2 separate regions of the Homo sapiens genome follow, and region 2 is linked to region 1. Evidence: fine-mapped expression QTL. A gene starts in region 1. The other region holds a variant in brackets. All regions are shown on one strand. Distances are between the middles of the regions. Region 1 holds the start of TP53I3 (tumor protein p53 inducible protein 3). Region 2 overlaps PFN4 (profilin family member 4).

Region 1 (2,839 bases):
CATAATGAGACCCCTACACTACAAAAAAGAGAGAGAGAGAAAGAGGGGGTGGGGAAGGAGGGAAGGAAGGAAGGAGGGAGGGAGGGAGAGAAGGAAGCCATTTTTTTTAACCAATTGTGAGTAACTTATTCTTTCCACACTTGTTAGAACCTGAAATTTTATAAAATATAGGCATGCATTTTTGTTCTTATGAATCCATCCTTTAGTGAATGTTTTCAATCCGTATAATCTGGTAGAATTTAGGAAAACTGTATTCTTTTATTTGGTTAACTATTGAATCTTCTTCATCCATTCCTCTTCCTCCTTCTAAAATTCCTTTTTTTTTTTTTTTTTTGAGACGGAGTCTCACTCTGTCGTCCAGGCTGGAGTGCAGTGGTGCGATCTCGGCTCACTGCAAGCTCCCCCTCCCGGGTTCACGCCATTCTCCTGCCTCAGCCTCCCGAATAGCTGGGACTACAGGCGCCCGCCACCACGCCCGGCTAATTTTTTGTATTTTTAGTAGAGACGGGGTTTCACCGTGTTAGCCAGGATGGTCTCGATCTCCTGACCTCGTGATCCGCCCGCCTTGGCCTCCCAAAGTTCTGGGATTACAGGCGTGAGCCACCGCGCCCGGCCTAAAATTCCTGTTATTCTCATAGCAGGGTCTCCTGAATTTTTCCTTAAGTCCCATCATTTTATTATTTCCATCTCTATAGGCTTTTGCTCTGTTGTGTTAAAGAAATAATTATTCAATGATACTTGTTAAAGCACATTAAGGAAGACTTTATTTAGCACCATCGCTACAGGTTTAGGGACCACTGCAATGAGTTCTTGCAGTGGAGGAGACAGGTTGGGATCAACTCTGAATGCATCACGGACAAGTGGGAATGTATAGCCAAGGAGCAGTGTAGGGGGTCAGTGGATGGAAAATTGGTAAGAGGCATCAGGGGTAAGGGGGATTCTATCTAAACTGACCTAACAGGATTCTCACTGAAGACAGGCCAGGGTGGTCGGATATCACTTGGGGGATGGTGGAGGATGAGATATTGAGGGTGATCAGATGTCAAGGATGGGAGGTTCTTACTAAAACAGGAATTTACAAGGAGTGCTACGGATATGTAGTGGGGGGAGGCCAGGGATGCTGCTAAACATCCTACGATGCACAGGACGATCTCCTACAATAACGAACTAGCTAGTCCAAAATGTCAATAGCGCCGAGATTGAGAAACCTTCATGTAGCTTACGGATACAGCTTTTACCCAATCGCCAGCATCCTTCTCCTGGGGCTGAACCTCTCCCCCAGGACTGTCAGGAGGAGGCGAGTGATAAGGATCCCAGGACTGCGTTTTGCCTTCCTTCCCCACCCCCACTCCCAACGGCTCCTTTCTCTTCTCTTAGCAGCACCCAGCTTGCCCACCCATGCTCAAGATGGGCGGGATGCCAGCCTGTTACATAAATGTGCCAAAAGCCTGGCCATGCCTGGAAAATGGACCAATCCGCCCGCCAAGAGGTTGGGTCTCGTTCCCTAGAGAGAAGGAAGTTTCCTCTCCTTGAAGTGAGAGCTAGAATCGCACTTTCTGTCAAGCTGAGAGAAAGACTCTTTTCCAGAGGCTAAAAGGACAAGAAAATCTGATTTGCTTGCTTCTAACTTTGCGTTTTAAAGGGGGAAGGAGGAAAGGAAAGAGGGGGAGGGTGGTTCTGCTTAGCCCCACCCCTCCGGCTACCCCAGGTCCAGCCGTCCATTCCGGTGGAGGCAGAGGCAGTCCTGGGGCTCTGGGGCTCGGGCTTTGTCACCGGGACCCGCAGGAGCCAGAACCACTCGGCGCCGCCTGGTGCATGGGAGGGGAGCCGGGCCAGGAGTAAGTAACTCATACGGGCGCCGGGGACCCGGGTCGGGCTGGGGGCTTCCAACTCAGAGGGAGTGTGATTTGCCTGATCCTCTTCGGCGTTGTCCTGCTCTGCCGCATCCAGCCCTGTACCGCCATCCCACTTCCCGCCGTTCCCATCTGTGTTCCGGGTGGGATCGGTCTGGAGGCGGCCGAGGACTTCCCAGGCAGGAGCTCGGGGCGGAGGCCGGGTCCGCGGCAGACCAGGGCAGCGAGGCGCTGGCCGGCAGGGGGCGCTGCGGTGCCAGCCTGAGGCTGGGCTGCTCCGCGAGGATACAGCGGCCCCTGCCCTGTCCTGTCCTGCCCTGCCCTGTCCTGTCCTGCCCTGCCCTGCCCTGTCCTGTCCTGCCCTGCCCTGCCCTGTGTCCTCAGACAATATGTTAGCCGTGCACTTTGACAAGCCGGGAGGACCGGAAAACCTCTACGTGAAGGAGGTGGCCAAGCCGAGCCCGGGGGAGGGTGAAGTCCTCCTGAAGGTGGCGGCCAGCGCCCTGAACCGGGCGGACTTAATGCAGGTACCCAGGGCTCAGCCGCGCCGGGGCGGGCGGGACTCCAGAGCCTCCCTCTCAACAGCACTCAGTGGACATTGACCAGACGTGAAGGCGTGCACCGCTCCACACCCAGCAGGCAGCTGCGCTGGGGCTTCCCAGACCTAAACCCAGGGCGCCCTCTTTGTTCATGCAAAACAAGGGGGAGTACTTGTAAAGCAGAATCCACCCCGAGCTAATCCATAGCCACTCAGGCCTCCAGATGAGGGCGGAACTAACATTGTTGTGGGGTGTGGGCACACTTACTCCCCAGGCTACCCTGTTCGCCATCTTAATTCTACAGATAAGGAAACTGAAGTTCAGTGAGGTTAAGCAGTACGCCCAAGGCCGTGACACTAGCAATCAGAAGAGCTGGGATTCAAGCTGAGGTCTTTGTGGCTCCAAAGACCTCTTAACTCTTTCCACTCTGAGAGTCCCGGAGCTGAC
Region 2 (2,913 bases), 34 kb before region 1:
AATGTTCATTCCAGAATCTATTAACTGAGCCTTGCCTGAACTCTTTCCAATACAGTCCCACCTTCATACTCTACATCCTCCTTTAAAAAAAAAAAAAAAAGAGATAATCATTTCTGTGCTTAAAACATTTCTCAGTGGCCAGGCACAGTGGCTCACACCTGTAATCCCAGCACTTTGGGAGGCTGAGGTCAGGAGTTCAAGACCAGCCTAGCTAACATGGTGAAACCCTGTTTCTACTAAAAATACAAGAAAATTAGCCAGGTGTGGTGCGCCCTTGTAATCCCAGCTACTTGGGAGGCTGAGGCAGGAGAATTTCTTGAATCCAGAAGGCAGAGGTTGCAGTGAGCCGAGATCGTGCCATTGCACTCCGGCTTGGGCAACAAGAGCGAAATTCCATCTCAAAAAAAAAATTTTAAAAAAAATCAGCTCTCTGTTGCTTATAAGGAATGAAAGAGATGAAAATCATTCATTGGATGCCCTATATTATGGGTTAGGCATGCTGCTTCATCCACATTATAAACTAAATAATCTCATTTTACAGATGAGGACACTGAGGCTTAACAAGGTTAAATAACCCTTACTCATGCAGCAGAAAAGGAGGCACTAGAATTCAAGCCCAGAGCTGTCCAATTCCAAAATGTACGACCTTTCCATTACATCAGTTTTGTTTTGTTTTGTTTTGTTTTGTTGTTGTTTTTTTTTTTGAGACGAGTTTCACTTTTGTCGCCCAGGCTGGAGTGCAATGGCACGATCTCGGCTCACTGCAACCTCCACCTCCTGGGTTCAAGAGATTCTCCTGCCTCAGCTTACCGAGTAGCTGGGGTTACAGGCGCCTGCCACCACGCCTGGCTAATTTTTGTATTTTTAGTAGAGATGGGGTTTCACCATGTTGGCCAGGCTGGTCTCAAACTTCCAACCTCAGGTGATCTTTCTGCCTTGGCCTCCCAAAGTGCTGGGATTACAGGCGGGAGCCACTGCACCCGGCCTACATCAGTTGTTCTAATTGGGATGGGGTATATGATAATCAATTGCAGAACTTTTTCAAAATCCATCTACCATTATTATAACAGTCTGAAACTTTTTGAGGAAAGGCAACTAAATTGGTGGAAAAGAGTGGACAGTCCAAAAACAGATATATAAACATATGGAAAATATATACGGAATATGTATATTCCATATATATTCCAAACATATGGAAATCAGGAAATGGTGAAAAACGTAGCTGGAGCATGACCACTGGTCCTGTGATTAGAACCAAGAGCAGAATATTCTCTTATATTCTTTATACAGGAGAACACTGGTGTGGTTGT[C/T]GTGAAGACCCATCTGTATCTTCTGGTAGCAACTTACACTGAGGGCATGTATCCTAGCATCTGTGTGGAAGCCACAGAGAGCCTGGGTAAGTTGGCCTCCTAGTTCCTGTCTTCATTCCCTATGTTAGTTGGGTCTTCCGACTACGAGTAACAGAGATCCAACTCAAACCAGCTAGGGCAGAAAGGAGGAATTTATTGGAAGGATGCTGAGGTTATTTACATAGCCACTGGAAGGACAGGGTGCAGCTGAGCCATGGGGAAGGTAGATTCAGGGACTGGAACACTGCTAGGATTCTGTCTTGACTTCTAAATGAGTCAGCTTTGTTCTGTCTCATAGCAAACTGTTTCCTTTCCTGGCTGATATCATGGCCAAGCCTCCCATAATACCCCTTAATTTCTCTTAGGACCCTGATTTGGCAAGTTTCAGGTCATATGGTTTACCCCTGTATCAGTCAGCTATGTAGGTGGGGCAGGATAGGGGAGGGGGGAGACAGCAGGGTAAAAAGGCAGAGATGTGGCTGCTGGGGGTCTACCCTATATAAAGAGACATTTTACAGGAAAAGGAATTACTGTGAGTCAGGCAGCCACTTTGTTGGTATATACTGCATTCCCCCTCCGTGTCTATACATTTTTGAATAAAGATCTCATAGAGAACTAGCTTGGGTATTATATCGGTGAGAGTTGAGCTTAATAAATGGTAAATTGTGTTTGTGTTTAGATTTTTCAAAATCTAAATTTAAATTTTAAAAAGTTTACTGGAGTTGCATAAACACTCCTTTGAAACAGAAGCCTCTAGTAACAAAAGCAGCCACTCATTCATTCATTCATTCATTCAACAAACATTCAGAGGTACTTACCATGTGCCCTGCACTATCCTAGATAAATTAGGGAAGCAGAGCTGGTTAAGATATAGCTTCTGCCTTCCATGCCTCTGTACATGCTGTTCTATCTGCCTAAAATATTTTCTGTTTCCTTCCTGTCCCTCACATCTATTCTGCAAATTCCTAATCATCATTAAAGAACCAAGTCAGATCTCAGGCTTCTATCCATTGTGGTATGTATTTTATGCATACCTTTATGATTATCCCCATTACAGTTCTTTGTTTATCTAGATTGTGAATCCCTGGAAGGCATTTGTCTTGTCTTAATCCTTCTTTTTCTCCATTACCTAACACAGTGTCTGATGTTGGGTAGGCAATTAGTACATGTTTGATGAATAAATCAATGAATTACTTCGGCCTAGCAGAGTCAGGGAAGGCGCCAGAGAGCTGAATCTTAAAGGGCCAATTGAGAAATTAAGTTTATCACAGAAACTATATACCTATGTACAGATATGCCTCATTTTATTGCATTTTGCATTATTGGACCCTTCCTGAACAGATGTCAGGATTTGAAGGAGGCTCCATTTCAGAATTGTAGGGCAGGAGCAGAGAGCAGAACAGAGACATAGAGAGCCAGGTTAATTATCTAATTAAAATAACCAGAATATGAGATTAGAAAGATGGGCAATTTGGCTGTCAGGAAGCCAGGCTCTTACCCTGTCAGCTAGGGCTCAGGGCTAATTCCCCAGAGGAGACCAGATAAATTGCCTGACTACTGTAAT

The links. PIP is the estimated chance that this variant, and not a neighbour inherited with it, causes the effect.
Region 2: its variant is fine-mapped to the expression of TP53I3 in whole blood (INTERVAL, PIP 0.99).

Annotation. Positions count from the first base shown.
Region 1 is chr2:24,083,730-24,086,568 of GRCh38, reverse strand. It overlaps TP53I3 (tumor protein p53 inducible protein 3), which reads left to right and starts at 1,735. Exons shown (of 5, transcript NM_004881.5): 1 at 1,735-2,380. The coding sequence starts at 2,243. It also overlaps a transcript of FAM228B not described here. RefSeq lists enhancers at 950-1,450, 2,198-2,247, 2,398-2,497 and a silencer at 2,008-2,187.
Region 2 is chr2:24,118,060-24,120,972 of GRCh38, reverse strand. PFN4 (profilin family member 4) reads left to right here. Exons shown (of 5, transcript NM_199346.3): 4 at 1,291-1,396. It also overlaps a transcript of FAM228B not described here. Among named protein-coding and RNA genes, the nearest start is that of PFN4, 3.8 kb to the left of the region's middle. The variant C/T (reference allele first, on the strand shown) is at 1,311.